Regions from separate parts of the Homo sapiens genome. Here region 1 is linked to region 2. Evidence: fine-mapped expression QTL. A gene starts in region 2. The other region holds a variant in brackets. All regions are shown on one strand. Distances are from middle to middle. Region 1 overlaps GCKR (glucokinase regulator). Region 2 holds the start of FNDC4 (fibronectin type III domain containing 4).

Evidence for each region. PIP is the estimated chance that this variant, and not a neighbour inherited with it, causes the effect.
Region 1: its variant is fine-mapped to the expression of FNDC4 in thyroid (GTEx, PIP 0.99).

The regions. Positions count from the first base shown.
Region 1 is chr2:27,516,128-27,524,455 of GRCh38, forward strand. GCKR (glucokinase regulator) reads left to right here. Exons shown (of 19, transcript NM_001486.4): 17 at 2,661-2,810; 18 at 6,333-6,467; 19 at 7,142-7,557. The coding sequence ends at 7,312. Among named protein-coding and RNA genes, the nearest start is that of SPATA31H1, 17 kb to the right of the region's middle. The variant A/G (reference allele first, on the strand shown) is at 4,221.
Region 2 is chr2:27,492,089-27,500,403 of GRCh38, forward strand. It overlaps FNDC4 (fibronectin type III domain containing 4), which reads right to left and starts at 3,112. Exons shown (of 7, transcript NM_022823.3): 1 at 2,790-3,112; 2 at 2,459-2,615; 3 at 2,263-2,378; 4 at 1,842-2,046; 5 at 1,301-1,390; 6 at 578-702; 7 at 1-390. The coding sequence starts at 2,591. The coding sequence ends at 355. GCKR (glucokinase regulator) reads left to right here and starts at 4,751. Exons shown (of 19, transcript NM_001486.4): 1 at 4,751-4,876; 2 at 5,156-5,311; 3 at 5,474-5,542; 4 at 6,167-6,235; 5 at 6,636-6,709; 6 at 7,054-7,120; 7 at 7,309-7,362. The coding sequence starts at 4,817.

The sequences.
Region 1 (8,328 bases), 24 kb after region 2:
CTGTGTCACATACTCAATTTCTATGTGCATTGGTCTATTTATGGACTTTCTATTCTGTTCCACTGGTTTGTCTATTGATGTGCTGGTACCATATGTTTTAATTATGGAGGCGTTATGGTATGTTTGGTATCCAATAGGGTTTGTTCTTCATTCTTGTTTTTTTTTTTTTTTTTTTTTTTTTGAGATGGAGTCTCATTCTGTTGCCCAAGTTGGAGTTCAATGGTATGATCTCGGCTCACTGCAACCTCCGCCCCCCAGGTTCAAGTGATTCTCTTGCCTCAGCCTCCCAAGTAGCTGGGATTACAGGCACGCGCCACTACACCAGGCAAATTTTCTTTTGTATTTTTAGTAGAGATCAGGTTTCACCCTGTTGGCCAGGCTGGTCTCAAACTCCTGACTTCAAGTGATCCACTCACCTCAGCCTCCCAAAGTGCTGGGATTATAGGCGTGAGCCACTGTGCCCAGCCTATTCTTCTTTTTAAGGATTTTCCTGGCTATATCCAGGCCGATTTTTCCATGTGTACTTTAAAATGAATGTGTCGCACTCCAAATTTTGTAAAATTTAAAATATTTTTGTGTTAATGGTGTTAATGTTAATGGTATCAATGGTTAGTGGTATAACCTAGATCTAATTGACCTCTCTCCCAAAGTGCAGTCTGACACGCACCCTATAGCATCAGTACTGCATACTTACTGGCCAGTTTCATGCTGAAATTTCATGCTGTTCTTATATTTAGTGTCGTGGACATTCACTTATTAAAATGTTTTCAATATACCCTCTTCCAGGGTTTTGTGTGAACAGCTATTTCTAGAGTTCCAGAATAAAGAGGTAAAAGTAGCAGTAGCCTGTTTCCTCAGCCTGGCTAGGACCACGTGTATTAGTACCTTTTTTTTTTTTTTTTTTAATATGGAGTCTCATTCTGTCGCCAGGCTGGAGTGCAGTGGCGTGATCTAGGCTCACTGCAACCTCTGCCTCCTGGGTTCAAGTGATTCTCCTGCCTCAGCCTCCTAAGTAGCTCTGACTTACAGGTGCTTGCTACCATGCCTGGCTAATTTTTGTATTTTTAGTAGAGACGGGGTTTCACCATGTTAGCCAGGATGGTCTCAATCTCCTGACCTCATGATCCGCCCACCTTGGCCAGTACATTTTCATACTGCTCTAAAGAACTGCCCGAGACTGGGTGATTTATAAAGGAAAGAGGTTTAATTGACCCACAGTTCAGCATGGCTGGGGAGGCCTCAGGAAACTTACAATCATGGTGGAAGGTGAAGGGGAAGTAAGGCATCTTCTTCCCAAGGTGGCAGAAAGGAGAAGTGCCAAGTGAAGGGGGAACAGCCCCCTTATAAAACCATCAGATCTCATGAGAACTCACTATCCCAAGAACAGCATGGGGGAACGCCCCCTGCCCCCCATGATTCAATTACCTCCACCTGGTCTCTCTCTTGACACATGGGGATTATGGGGATTACAATTCAAGATGAGATTTGGGTGAGGACACAAAGCCTAACCATATCACCAGTTAATTAATCCCCTCAACACCTTTACTGGGCCCCAGTTTCCCTGCTAATGTGCCAATAGGTGTTATAAGTGCCCCAAGGTGGACAAGATATAAGGGCCAAAAACAAGGGGCAGTTTTATACTCGCGATACCACATGTTTGAACAATTTTTTAGTTTTCAACATGCCTTTACATAGGTTCTCTCATTCATCCAGGAGATATTTGTGGCAAAGTAGGAAATGCCCTCATCATTGAATCAGAAGACCGGGATTTAGGTCCTCATTCTCCATCTCGTTATCATATGAGCTTCTCCAAGTTAATTTACTTCTGACCTCTAGTTTCCTCATATGTAGAAATGAGGATAGGTAAACTTATTCTGTAGGGCTGTTAGAAAAATTAAATAGAATTCATTTTTCAACAAACATTTTTTTTTCCCCTGAGACATAGTCTCACTCTGTTGCCCAGGCTGGAGTGCAGTGGCACAATCTAGGCTCACTGCAACCTCCACCTCCCGGGTTCAAGTGATTCTTGTGCCTCAGCCCCCCGAGTAGCTGGGATTACAGGTGTATGCCACCACTCCTAGCTAATTTTTGTGTATTTAGTAGAGACAGCATTTCATCATGTTGGCTAGGCTTGTTGAGAACTCCTGACCTCAGGTGATCCCCCAACCTTGGCCTCCCAAAGTGGTGGGATTACAGGAGTGAGCCACTGTGCCCGGCCTCAACAAATGTATTGATCAGCAAATATGTGTCAGTCATGGTCTAAAAAACTGGGGCCCTGGAGCAGAATAAGTCACCATCTCTGCCCTTTCAAGAAGCCTGTGGTTTAGTGGAATGAATCCCACTCCTCCTGTCTGATACCCGGGGAGAAAAAGGAACAATTCAGCAGGATCAAAATTCTAATATGGAAGGACTCAGAGAACATGTCTGTCTACCTAGGGGTCAAAAACACAAATGGGTGAAGCTACCAGGTTTGCCTGAGACAATCCTGGTTTACATCTATTGCCCTAACATTTAAACGCTGGGCTGCTCAAACAAATCATGTTTGCATTTTGGTCCCTGGTTCTTGACAGTTGGTTTCCTGTCTGATAACAGGGCCCTGTTCACTCTGCTGCTTTTCTGTCCTCTAATTTTTGACACCCCCATGTGTCTGCCCTTTTCAGAAGTTCCAGCGTGAGCTAAGCACCAAATGGGTGCTGAATACAGTGAGTACAGGTGCTCATGTGCTTCTTGGTAAGATCCTACAAAACCACATGTTGGACCTTCGGATTAGCAACTCCAAGCTCTTCTGGCGGGCGCTGGCCATGCTGCAGGTAGGGATATGATGGGGCAGGGTTGGGTGGGACCTGGCCTCAATGCTTAGGCTGCCAGAGGAGGGCATTTTGTAGAGATATGGAAATGTGCAAGGGTACAGGCTGCCTTTTCTGTGTGCTTCTGCTCCTCCTATTAGGTGCATCTTCCCCTTAAGGAGTGTGTGTGCACACATGGGTGTGTTTGTGAAATTGTAATTATTAGGCAAGACTCTTTCAGTTACAAACGTGATGGAAAACGAGTTTATACTGGTTTAAGCTAAACAAAGAAAATGGTGGCTGATATAACTGAACAATCTTAGGGCAGCTGAATCTAATGTGTTCCAGAACTTTCCACCCTTAACTCTGTTTTCCCCTGTGTTGCTCTCATTCTTTTTTTTTTTTTGAGATGGGGTCTTGCTCTATCGCCCAGGCTGGAGTATAGCGGTGCTATTTCAGCTCAGTGCAACCTCCGCCTCTGAGGTTCCATTGATTCTCCTGCCTCAGCCTCCCGAGTAGCTGGGATTACAGGCACCCCCCACCATGCCCAGCTAATTTTATATTTTTTAGCAGAGACAGGGTTTTGCCATGTTGGCCAGGCTGGTCTCGAACTCCTGACCTCAGGTGATCCACCTGCCTCAGCCTCCTAAAGTGCTGGGATTACAGGCGTGAGTCACTGCACCCGGCCGTTGCTCTCATTCTTAGGCAAGTTTTTTCCATTAGGTGGCAAACTGGCCACCAGTAGTGCCAGCCTGACAATTTACGTAGCAACACTAGTGGGCAAAGAGCTTGCCTGTCCTGTGGTTCTTGCAAATGCCTGGTTGGGGGCTCTTGCTTGGGACACATGCATGTCCCTGAAGCAATCACTGTTCTCCAGAGCAAGGGATGCTCTGCCCAGTCTGGATCATGTGCTTTCCCTTCAGGATGGTGGTGGAAGAAGGGCTGGGAGGTGAGCCTCAATCCAACCTCATTACCTGAGCATGGGGAAGCGATAGATCCTCAGAGGAAAACCAAGGTGCTGATACCAGAAGGAGTGGATGTTGAGCAGACGGCACAACAGATGGTCATGAAAATGGGGTCGCCAGATTCGGCAAATAAAAATACAGGACGCCCAGTTAAATTTGAATTTCAGATAAATATGGAATAATTTTTCCATCAAGTATGCCCTATGCAATATTTGAGATATTTTTGATTTTTTTCATTATATATTTGGATGTCCTGTATTTTTATTCACAAAATCTGGCAACCCTATGTGAAAGGAATCAATCAATGAACATTTAGTGAGCACCCACCAGGTCCCCAAAATAAACTATGGTCCTTACTGAAGTCCAGTGGAGGTATAAAGAAGGTGGGGGTCAGAATGCATTATAGCAAAAAGAAGGCCTCATGGAAGGGGTGGTATTTTGAGCTAGGCCTGGTGGTTATGGCTTGGAT[A/G]GGTGGACAGAAGAGCATTCCTGTTAGGTCATTCACCAAGTCCCAGAAGGGGGACTGGGCATGATATGTGAGGGACACAGGTCTAACCAGAGTGGCAAGTCACTTTAGAGCGCAGTGAGGGATTGTGAAGAAGTAGGAAGGGGAGGGATGTGGGAGGTTAAAGCCAGGCAGGAATTTGGACTTTGCCAAATGCAGCTAGACCTGCGCTGTCCAAAACATTGGCCACCAGCCACATGTGGCTATTGAGCACTTGAAATGTGGCTAATGTGACTGAGGAACTGAATTTTTAATTTTATGTAAAAACCAAAGCTGTATACTTTTTAAATTAAATGTAACTTTAATATTTTGGTAGGACTACATTTCTCTTTTTAGCATTGCAAATCTAGCACCCAAATTGAGGTGGGCTGGCTGGGCACGGTGGCTCACGCCTGTAATCCCAGCATTCTGGGAGGCCGAAGCAGGCAGATCACTTGAGGTCAGGAGTTCGAGACCAGCCTGGCCAACATGGTGAAACCCCGTCTCTACTAAAAATAAAAAAAATAAAAAAATAGCCGGGCATGTTGGCACAGGCCTATAGTCCTGTCTACTAGGGAGGCTGAGGCAGGAGAATAGCTTGAATCTGGGAGGTGGAGGTTTCAGTGAGCCAAGATAGTGCCACTGCACTCCAGCCTAGGTGACAGAGTGAGACTATCTCTCAAAAAATAAAATTAAAATTAAAAAAAGCCACAAAAAAACAAATTGAGGTGTGCTCTAGTTGCAAAATACACACTGGATTTCAAAATACAAAATCCGAATATAGAAAAATATTGCAAAATATCTGACTAATAATGTTTAATATTGTTTACATTGGGTTATATATTGGGTTAAATAAAATATATTATTAAAATTGATTTCAGGCCAGGTGTGGTGGCTTACACCTGTAATCCCAGCACTTTGGGAGGCCAAAGCGGGCAGATCACAAGGTCAGGAGAAATAGGTGAAATCACATTTTTTTTTTTTTTGAGATGGAGTCTCACTCTGTCACCCAGGCTGGAGTGCAGTGGCATGATCTCGGCTCACTGCAACCTCCACCTCCTGGGTTCAAGTGATCCTCCTGCCTCAGCCTCCTGAGTAGCTGGGATTACAGGCATGCGCCACCACACCCAGCTAATTTTTTTTTTTTTTTTTGTATTTTTAGTAGAGACGGGATTTCACCATATTGGCCAGGCTGGTCTCCAACTCCTGACCTTGTGATCCACCTGCCTCAGCCTCTCAAAGTGCTGGGATTACAGGTGTGAGCTGCTGTGCCTGGCCAATTTCACCTATTTCTTTTTTTAATGCAGCTACTGAAAACTTAAACTTACATATGTGGTTTGCATTATATTTTTTTCTTTATTTTTATTTTTTTTAGAGACAGGGTCTCACGCTGTTACCCAGGCTGGAGGGCAGTGCATTGGCACCATCCGGCTCACTACAGCCTCAAACTCCTGAGCTCAGGCAATCCTCCCACCTCAGCCTCCTGAGTAGCTGGGACGATAGGCAGGTGCCACCATGCCCAGCTAATTTGTTTTATTTTTTGTAGAGATGGGGTCTTGCTGTGTTGCCTAGGCTGGTCTCGAACTCCTGGGCTCAAGTAATCCTCCTGTTTTGACCTCCCAAAGTGCTGGGATTACAGGTGTGACCCACTGTGCCCAGCCTTGCATTATATTTCTACTGGACAATGCTGAGCTAGACAGAGAGGAGGGTAGTGACAAAATGGAAGCAGTGTTTGCAGATGAACAGTCTTACATTAGTGTGCAAGATGGATTTGGTTACAGAGGAAACTAGAGAGAGGGAGTCCAGATTACCAACCTACAGGATTGGTGGGACACACATGCAAATTTGAGCAATTTGCCATTAATCCTCCAGTTTAACCCAGCCAGTCAAGCCCACCACCAACCCCTTTAACCTAGTTTTTCTTTACACCTGGGAATTACAATTTAGGATTGCCAACATGGACAAATCATCTACAGCCTCTATAGCCAGGCCTCGGGATCCCAGCCTCTCACTCTCATAGTTTATTCTTCTCCCTTGACTCCATTCTTAGTTCCTCTGGCCTTTAGCCTGACACTGATCTTACCACTTCTTCCTTAGCGGTTCTCTGGACAGTCCAAGGCTCGATGCATCGAGAGCCTCCTCCGAGCGATCCACTTTCCCCAGCCACTGTCAGATGATATTCGGGCTGCTCCCATCTCCTGCCATGTCCAGGTTGCACATGAGAAGGAACAGGTATCCTGCCCACTGCTGGTCATTCAACAAATACTTTTTGAGTACTTTCAGTGTGTCAGGAAGTTTGTTCGGCACTGGGTTTACAAAGCTCAGTGGCACTCTGCTCACAAGGACCTCCACATTCATGGGGTCTTTGGACTGGGTTTTGAAGGATGAATAGGAGTTTTCCTGGTCAAAGTGAAGGTTTCTTTCTGCTCTTAATCCACCTTGTTACCACCTTCTAATCTTAATAACATCCTATTTGCATCTAACCTAGTGGCTCCTGATTCCTGTATCAAATGCTTTAACTCCTCCAGGGTTCTGTTTTTTTTTTTTTTTTGAGAGAGAGTCTTGCTCTGTCACCCAGGCTGCTGGAGTGCAGTGGCGCGATCTCGGCTCACTGCAACCTCTGCCCCCGGGTTCAAGAGATTCTCTTGCTTCAGCCTCCCAAATAGCTGGGATTACAGGTGCCAGCCACCAATGCCTGGCTAATTTTTGTATTTTTAGTAGAGATGGGGTTTCGCCATATTGGCCAGGCTTGTCTCAAACTCCTGAACTTAAGTGATCTGCCCACCTCGGCCTCCCAAAGTGCTGGGATTACAGGCGTGAGCCACTGCGCCCGACCTTCCTCCGGGGTTCTTTCTCTGATGACCTCATTCCCTCAGGCTTCAGTGCCCACTGCCTCTTCCCCACAGGTGATACCCATCGCCTTGCTGAGCCTCCTATTCCGGTGCTCGATCACTGAGGCTCAGGCACACCTGGCTGCAGCTCCTTCTGTCTGTGAGGCTGTCAGGAGTGCTCTTGCTGGGCCAGGTCAGAAGCGCACTGCGGACCCCCTCGAGATCCTAGAGCCTGACGTTCAGTGAACCCATGTTTCTGGGTGGGTGAAAGGGGCCCAACCCTGCCCACTTCAGCCCAGCCCGCCCAAGGGGACTTGTGCCAGCAGAACATGTGGGAGGAAGAAGCCCCGTTTCCAGGGCATCCGCAGCCCAGGGTAGGGAGAAATATTCTCTCCACTTTGGGGGAGAGTTCTTGCTCTCGACCTAGTGGTTTCTACTCTCACCGACTTATTCTGATTTCAGAAATAAAATGAAATGTCTTATTTTGGAAAGTTAACCTTTCAAAGTCAGTAAATCAAACAGTAGATCAGAGGTGGGATAGGATGGGTGGCATGGGTTGGTCTTAACAGCAGATTTGTTTCTTTAATTCTGTCCCCAACTCCATTTCATTGGTCCCTAACACAAGCCTTATACTGGCATCCCTATATTTTCATTACCAACATGCAGCCACGTGTGCATGCGTGCACACACACTCCAATCCCACACAGACACACAATGAGAGGTGGGAACTTTTAGATAATTCCAGGGGAAGAGGGAAGAAGTTGTGTACCTAACATAGGAAACCCAGAAAAAGGGCAGTCTTAATCAGACATGACAAGATCTAGAATGACTGCTACATCCACGCATTAGACCATGAAATGAGGGTCACATCCCCTGCCCCGTGTTTGTAAGAGGAACATAAGGAACTCTGGAGGTGCTGAAAGCCCTTGGTGGTGGGACCCAACAAACACTAGAAACCCCGGGCTGTACATTTTAGACATCAGCTACCCCATGTTTTGACAAATCAAAGACACCCTTGTTCATCCTAGATTCATGCCAGCTCTTTAGGGCCTGTGATATATGGCCCTGACAGTAGAGAGCTGGTTCCTCCTTGTGCCTGAGAAATATCCAGGTAATAGATACTCAGGAACATTCCTCTGGGGATGAAACTCTCTGGAAAGGTCCCTGGAACTTTTAGGCAGGAGGGTGACTGCAAAGGAGCCAGATTTTGGTTTTATGAGGATAGAGTAATCAACCTTTTTAAGGTGGCCATAGGCCCCTCT
Region 2 (8,315 bases):
GGCCAGAGGCAAGATGTGGGGCAGCTGGGGATGCTCAGAGTCCTGATACAGGTGAAATGGGGCCCCCATTTGGGACCTAATGGAGTAGGGTACAACTAGTGACTCTCCCCTGGACCGGGGAATGGAAGGAGATATCCCATCTGATATCCACTCCCCAGGTCCAGGGGCACAGACTCTGAACAGACCTACCTTCTGGCTCTGCTCACAGTGGAAAGAGGATGGGTACCAGGCCTGAGATTGTGGGAGTGGCATTACCCTCTGGGAGTCTCGGGCAGATCACCATCTTGGGCTCCCCCTGACCCCATCCCTATCCCCAGTTGTTAGTGCATCTCTCTTCTGGGTGTGTTTCTTCACTCAAACGTCGATGGTGTTGATAGATGGTGACTTTTTCTGTGAAAGAAAATGGCCTGAGTCTCAACTTCAGGAAGGTAATAGGTGCCACCCTTTCTCTCCAGCCTCCCCCATCCCAGATCTTCCATTCTCCATCTTTTTCTGCCCCTCTTTGACCTTCTTCCTTTCCCTGGCTGCCCCTCAGGGGCAGAATCACCCTTTCCGCCCTCACTGGCCCCCACATCACCTGTCTTGTCCCCACTGGCCTTCCCTGAGGACTCTGTTCCGGCCCCTTTCCCTTCTCCTTGGGATTGTTGTTGGAGTCATTGTCCTTGATGATGTCATACTGACGGCAGAACAGCCCAATTACAGCTGAAACACAATACAGTCTGAGCCTTCATCTCCACTTCCCCCCTCATAGGGAGATACCTACGTAGCTTCTAGAAAATCCATGAAGAACATCCTGAATTCCTGGTGCCCATGCAGTCCTCCTCTCTGGGCTCTCAACAGCCTCCTCTCCCTCTCTTCAAAGTTCAAATCATCCCTCCTGAACTAAGTATCTCCCCACTCCACTCTATTTCTCTTACTTTTTTTTTTTTTTTTTTTTTGAGACAGAGTCTCGTTCTGTTGCCCAGGCTGGAGTGCAGTGGCATGATCTCGGCTCGCTCACTGCAACTTCCACCTCCTGAGTTCAAGCAATTCTTCTGCCTCAGCCTCCTGAGTAGCTGGGGTTACAGGCGCCCTCCACCACACTCTGCTAATTTTTGTATTTTTAGTAGAGACGGGTTTCACCATGTTGGCCAGGCTGGTCTCAAACTCCTGACCTCAGGTGATCTGCCTGCCTTGGCCTCCCAAAGTGCTGGGATTACAGGCGTGAGCCACTGTATCTCTCACTTCTTTTTCTCCTGACAACCTTTGCCACCTCACACCTTTACTGAGTCCCTGGTCCCCTGTCTAGCTGCTTACTCACCAGCCCACATGAGCAACACCACCACAATGATGACCACTTCCCCAGTCTGCAGTGGCCGCTCTCCATCCAGACCTTCCACTGTGATGTCACCTGAGAAGGGAGAAGGCAGAAGGCAGACTCCAGGTTACTGGGGTCCATACTGCAGACATGCAGGATGGAGATGCTGGGGATTAGAAAGGGTGGACCCATCATAATGTTGCCCTTGGAGTGTAGGGTAGCCCCTCCCTGGGAGGAAGCCGTTGGTGGACAGGTGGTTAGCGACCAAAAAGCGGGATGGCTGCAGGTTAATTACTCACTCATGCAGGCTGCAGCTGATGTGAAGTTGGGTAACAGGAAGCTTAAAAGGCCTTCCCCCAAACAACTCAATACCAGCCTGTCTATACCCAATCCCCTTCCCACCTGCTTTTCTTTCCTTTCCTGGCAGTACAATGAATTAAATCATCCTATTCAACTCAGCTAGTCTGTTGCTTGTCTTGGGGAAGTAAGTAAGAGGCTGCAAGCCAGGTAAGCAGCCAGAGAATCCAATAGCACAGATCCTCACCTGGGCTTGAACTGTTTGAAGGTAGCCGGTCAGAACCCTTGAGAGTTCGGAAGTGCACCCGGGGCCCTGGGGGACTCTCTCCCCGAAGGCCGATGCTCCTGACCTGCACTGTGTAGTCACTGTCTTCAGCCAGGCCCCAGAGGGCACAGGCCCGGGTGGTGGTGTTCACCTCCCGAATCACACGCTGCCCGGGGCCATTCTGCCGCTGCAGGGAGATGAGGGGAGAGGAGGACAGCCTCACCCCAGTGCCAGGCCACAAGGCTCAACCAGAGACTCTTCAACATCCAAGCACTCCGGGGGAGTAGCGTGAAAAGGGCAGCCTGAGCCAGGATACGCCAGCTTCCAGATCCCCCCCACTTAAGTGAAGAAATGTGCCGAAATCCAAGGACACAGGTTGGGGGAGCAGAAGGGTGATTCATACTTGCTGGGAAATGGAGTAGCCAATGACGATGTTGCCTTCTGGGACGTCCCAGGACACAGTGGCCGAGTTGGCTCTGAGGTGAGTGACCGTCACATTCACAGGAGAGGGAGGCCGGTCTGCGGGAGCCAGGGTGTTTAACAGGTTTCACCCATTGACTAGCTGTGGTTGACCCTCAGCCCCGTTCCCCTTTACTTACCTGCTCGCACGAAGCCCAGGTCACAGCTGACCAGCAGGAGGACCGTGGGGCTTAGATATGGGGAAAGGGGCACCAGCGAAGCCATGTCCCCACGGAGTCCGCTGGGGGGGGAACTGTGGCATCCGCTTGGCATCCGCTTGACATCCAGGCGGGGCTCCTGGAGATGGCAGGAGTTGTGGGGGGTCAAGGACTGCCCAGAACGCACGGAGGTCGGGGGGCAGCAGCTCTCCTGGGCTCCCCACAGCTCACAACAGCCCTATTTTCTCTACGCCCTCCCGCCCCCGCATTGCCCGGGCGGCCCCAGAGTGCGGTCCGCCCTGCCCACACCCACCTCCGCCGGTCCTCGCGGTTGGTCAGGCCTCGGGGGGCTGCTCGGTGCCCAGAGGGCGGCCCATCGCCCGACTCGGTGGCGCTGCCCCTACCCCATCCCGGCGCGGGCCCGGCGACGCGGGCAGCGCGGGGCCGAGCTGCGGGCGGAGCGGGCGCGGGTCTGCGGAGCCCCCAGGGCTCGAGCGGGCCACGGAGTCTGTCCGGGAGCAGGGGGCGTTGCCCGGACGCTGGCCTGGGTCCCCGGTGCGGGAGGCAGTGCGGCGGCCTCCGCCCGCCCCTGCAGCGGGATGTGACCGTCCCGGAGAGCCAGCCGCCGCCTTCTGCAGCGCTGGCCCCGCTCGCTCCGCCGCAGCCCGGCCGGGACGCGCGGGCCCGCCCCGCCCAGCCGGGGTTCTCGCCGCCGTCATTCCCCTCCCGCCCCCTCACTCCCGTCCTCTCGGGGCTCCTCCCACGACCCTCCCAATGGCGCCTCCGGAGCCCCCATCCCTTATCCCTTCTCTCTCCCAGCTGAAGCGGACGAGTCGGCGGGGGCGTGGGGGGTGAGACGCGGGTGCTAGGGTCTCCGGCACCTGGGAGATCCCCTTCCTCCCCGCGTGGAAGAGCCAAGTTGGGAAGAGGAATTCCACCTCCAGTGCCCGAGGGGCTAACAGGAGAGGGGAGAGAGTGAGGGAGATAATAATTGCTTTAACAATCCCTTACTTGTAGACTGCGTCAGCTTTTAAGTCTCTTTTCCATTCATAATCTCATTTAATTCCGTTCGCTTTCTCATTCATTCTTTCATTTATTCACCAAATATTTATTGAGCATCTCCTATGTGTCTGGCATTATATTAAAACCTGGAGATACAGTGATTGTTAAGAGTGTTGGGCTTCTCGGGAGAATCAAAGCGCAAAGACCTATGGCTTTTTTAAAAAAATTATTATTCCTTTCTTTTCTTTTTTTGTTTTTCTAAAGCTCTACCACTTACGGTGTGGTTTTGGAGAAACTGGTTTATCTGTGCTTCAGGTTTCCCACCTGTAAAGCAAAGCGTGTGAAATCTCACAGGGTTGTTGTGAGGCTCAAATGAGACGGGAAAGATCTTTATAAATCTCACAACACTATGTGACTGGATGATGGAGATTAATTTGCACCAATCTGTTAGTTACTTCTTTGTTCAATAACATGTAAGCCCTTACATTATATCATGCTTTGGTTGAGCTTGAAATCTGAATTGAGAACCTGGGTGTGAGTCCCAATTTGTCCAGCTGTGTGATCTTAAGCAACCAACTAAACTACTCTGAGCCTGTTTCATCATCTGAAAAATGAGGGTGTCAATATTGACCAACATCTTAGTGTTGGTGTATCCAATGAGATACTGTCTGTGAAAAGTGTGTTGTTCAGTGTAAATAAATGTTGGCTAACATTGTATTTAGGGCAGATTCTTTGGTTTCTAATTCTCAATGCAGTATTTCTGTTTCTGTGGGATTTTTCCCGCTGTAATATCCAGTACAGTGTGTGCACACTTGGGGCTCAGAAGCTTCTACTGCCTTCCTTTCTGAGAGGAGAGGATAAAATGGGACCAGTGGGACTGACTGTGTGTGCTGAGCATGTGATCAAGCCATGGGCCAGGTCCTCTGACTTGTGCTGACTTGGTGACCCTGATCTCTGGCCTCGGAGGACACTTGCCCAGGGATTCTCACTGCCGTGGGTGTTGTCCTGCACTCCCAGGCTCCAGGTCCTCTGTAGAAGAGGGCATTGTCCCGGTAGGGCAAGAGTCCCGAGCCTCAGGTCTTCCTCTTCAGGGGCCAAAGCAGAGGCTGGCGAGTCAGGGTGCTTGCAAAGAGGAAGCCCAGGAGTTTCCCTGGGGTTACCAGAGGGCTGGGGGCCTAGTGACCAGGAAAGGGTGGTGCTCTGAGAGCCCAGGGTGCTTGGGTTAATCATCACTGGGGCTCAGATAAGGCCCTGCCAACTGGAAGCAGAGTCATTGTGACCAGAGGGGTTTGTGTGGCTGAAGAGGCAGGAGGAACAGTGTATCCACAGCGTGGGACCATGCCAGGCACAAAACGGTTTCAACATGTCATTGAGACCCCGGAGCCTGGCAAGTGGGAGGTGAGACCCCTTCTTCATGTTGGCTTTCTGTGCTGATTCCTAGAATTATTTTTCATCCAGTCTTCCCTCCCCGCTGGTTTCTGCTCACCTCTTCTTCCTTCCTGATGTTCTTTCCCTAATATGCCCAGAGCACCAAGTGCAGGCTGAGTTTCTGGTGTGGTATGTGTGTGCGTGTGTGTAAGTCCAAACTCTGTGCCTGCTGCCACTCCCACCTCCAGCTCAGCAGGCATGAATGAGGCTTTGGCTTCCTGCTCCATCCTTGTCCCCTCTTCCTTCTAGTTGTCTGGGTACGAGGCAGCTGTGCCAATCACGGAGAAGTCAAACCCACTGACCCAGGATCTAGACAAAGCAGATGCTGAGAACATTGTTCGACTGCTAGGGCAATGTGATGCTGAGATCTTCCAGGAGGAGGGGCAAGCCCTGTCCACATACCAGGTAACCAAGACCCAAGACCTGGACCCTGGAAATAAACATGCCAACCCCAACCCCACCTCTGCTCTCCCTCACCATGGCTCCTAATATCGGAAACCCTGAGACCCCCTCCCCCATTCATCGTCCTCCTTTTCTTGGCTTCTCATTCCTGCATATTCCCTACAGAGACTCTACAGCGAATCCATTCTGACCACCATGGTACAGGTGGCTGGGAAAGTTCAGGAAGTGCTGAAGGTACTAACCTTCCTTCTGTTCCCTGCCTAAACTTTTCTGTTTCCCTCTTTCTCTTTTTACTGTCTCTATTTCTCACTTTGATAGATCTCATTCTCCTTTCTCCCTTTTGGAGATCCTCCCTTTTGGATCCTTATTTTCATCTTATTAATAAATAATAATGATAACTTCTCTGCTTAATACTTTATAATTGACAATCTACTTTCACACCTATTACCCTCACAAAAGCCTGTGAAGTTGATATGACTTCTGTTTGTTTTCCTCAGATGAAAAAACAAAGATTTAGAAAGGATAATCACTGTAGCTTGCTCAAATACACTGAGCTAATAATTGCTGGATAATGCTGCTTTTATTATTTACTTTTATTTAGATGACAAAGCTGCTTTCAGTTCTTTCTGGGAGAAGTAAGGATTTGAACAAGTAGTGGAGCAAGACATGGGAGTCAAACTGGTTTCTCTAATCCAATGTTCTTTTTGCTACACTACATTGCATGTATTTGTTCAATTTTGTGATGAGAGGAGGGATAAGGAGTCTTTCCAATTCCTCTTGCATTACTGACAAAGAAAAGAATATTCTTCTCCCAACCTGAGCCAGGCCCTGGTAATATATGCCTCTTTCCTTCTTCAGGAGCCAGATGGGGGGCTGGTTGTGCTGAGTGGAGGGGGCACCTCTGGCCGGATGGCATTCCTCATGTCGGTGAGCACCCTGGTCTCCAGTTTTCTTCCCCCTCCACTTCTGGAGGTGACCCTCAGGACCATAAAGATCATCATAACTAAGCTCCCAGGTGGCCCCCTCACTAGACCTGGACTCCAAGCCTGGCTCTTTCTCTCTTCCAAAAGCTAGATGTCACCATGAAGTCCCATTTCTTCTGAGCCCATCTGAGTCCCGCCAGTATGTTGCCAATGTCTCTACATCCCATGCACCACCGACTAATCATCTCCAAGTAGCAGCTTTAAGTGCGAGATTCCATGTAGGACTGGGTTAAGCACTGGTCTAAGAGAATCATTATATAGTCTCTGCCCTCTAGGAGTTGAAAATCCAAGATAATTGTTTCTTCTCTGTCATTACCTCTTTACATCCTCTCCCTGCTTGACAGGTGTCCTTTAATCAGCTGATGAAAGGTCTGGGACAGAAACCTCTTTACACCTACCTCATTGCAGGTGGTGACAGGTAAGCCAAGTTAGCCTATGAATATTTTGTTTGACCTAAATAGTATTTCTTAGAAATTGAGTTGGAATACCTTTAGACAGAGATTGTGTCTGGCTTGTCTTAGTCCTCACCATTCCTTATTCCCTCACACTTGGCCCACTTCACATACTTATGTCGCCTGACTGGCTGTTGTAGGTATTTGAGTTTTTCAACTCTATGGAGTGTCTATCATGCACCAACAAACTGTGGGTGCTCATTCAATGATAGTTTTCCCTTTATGCGCATCTCTTAATGTAGCCTGCCCTAATACGCCATAGGCTTCTGCTTTCCAGCCACTGCCACTGACCTTGAGTCTGTCCTCTTAGGTCTGTGGTGGCCTCTAGGGAGGGGACAGAAGATAGTGCCTTGCACGGGATTGAGGAACTGAAGAAGGTCTGTGCTTTTCACTGACATTGACCAGAGACCTCTATCTGTTCCTTCTCATGGGGACATAAAAGCCCCAGCATTCAGCCAAAGCCTATTTCCTCCCTCCCCTGTTCCTGGCCCTGATATCCTCACACAGTAGATTTGTGCCCTGGAATCCTCCCAGTTACACTACCTTGTCCATCCTCCTCTCCTAGGTGGCTGCCGGGAAGAAGAGAGTGATTGTCATTGGCATTTCTGTGGGACTCTCTGTGAGTAAAAAGATGGGTTGAGTGGATCAATTTTAGAGAGAGGAAGTGAGTGGGAATGGAATAGCATGGAAGATAGATCAATGAGATCGGTGCTAGAAGGCAGGAAGTTTGCTCAAGGAATTTTGGTTTTAGTTTCACTAACTTGGATCAAGTTGTGTGAATGTGGGAAGATGGGGAAGGGATTCTATTTCAGAATAACTGTGTATCAATCAATCAACAACCAAGATAGGTGGACTAGTCCAGGGGTAAGCAAAATATACTGGCTGGCCAATGCAGCCAGCTGCCTGTTTTTAAAGTTTTTTGTTGTTGTTGTTTGTTTGTTTTTGAGATGGAGTCTCGCTCTGTCACCCAGGCTGGAGTGCAATGGCATGATTTCGGCTCACTGTAAACTCCACCTCCCAGGTTCAAGCGATTCTCCTGCCTCAGCCTCCCGAAAAGCTGGGATCACAAGCGCCCACCACAATGCCCGGCTAATTTTTGCATTTTTAGTAGAGACAGAGTTTCACCATGTTGGCCAGGCTGGTCTCGAACTCCTGACATCAGGTGCTCCACCTGCCTCGCTCAGCCTCTCAAAGTGCTGGGATTACAGGAGTGAGCCACTGCACCTGGCCCTAAAATAAAGGTTAGTTTTTGTTTTTGTTTTGGTTGTCGTTGTTGTTTTTGAGAGTCTCCCTCTGTCTCCCAGGCTGGAGTGCAGTGGCATAATCTTGGCTAACTGCAGCCTCCTCCTCCCAGGTTCAAGCGATTCTCCTGCCTCAGCCTCCCGAGTAACTGGAATTATAGGCACATGCCACCATGCCTGGCTGATTTTGTATTTTCAGTAGAGACAGGGTTTCTACTAAAAAAGAAAACTGGGGACCAGGATGCTCACCGACATGAGGAATGCCATGTTGGCCAGGCTAGTCTTGAACTCCTGACCTCAAGTGATCTGCCCACCTTGGCCTCCCAAATTG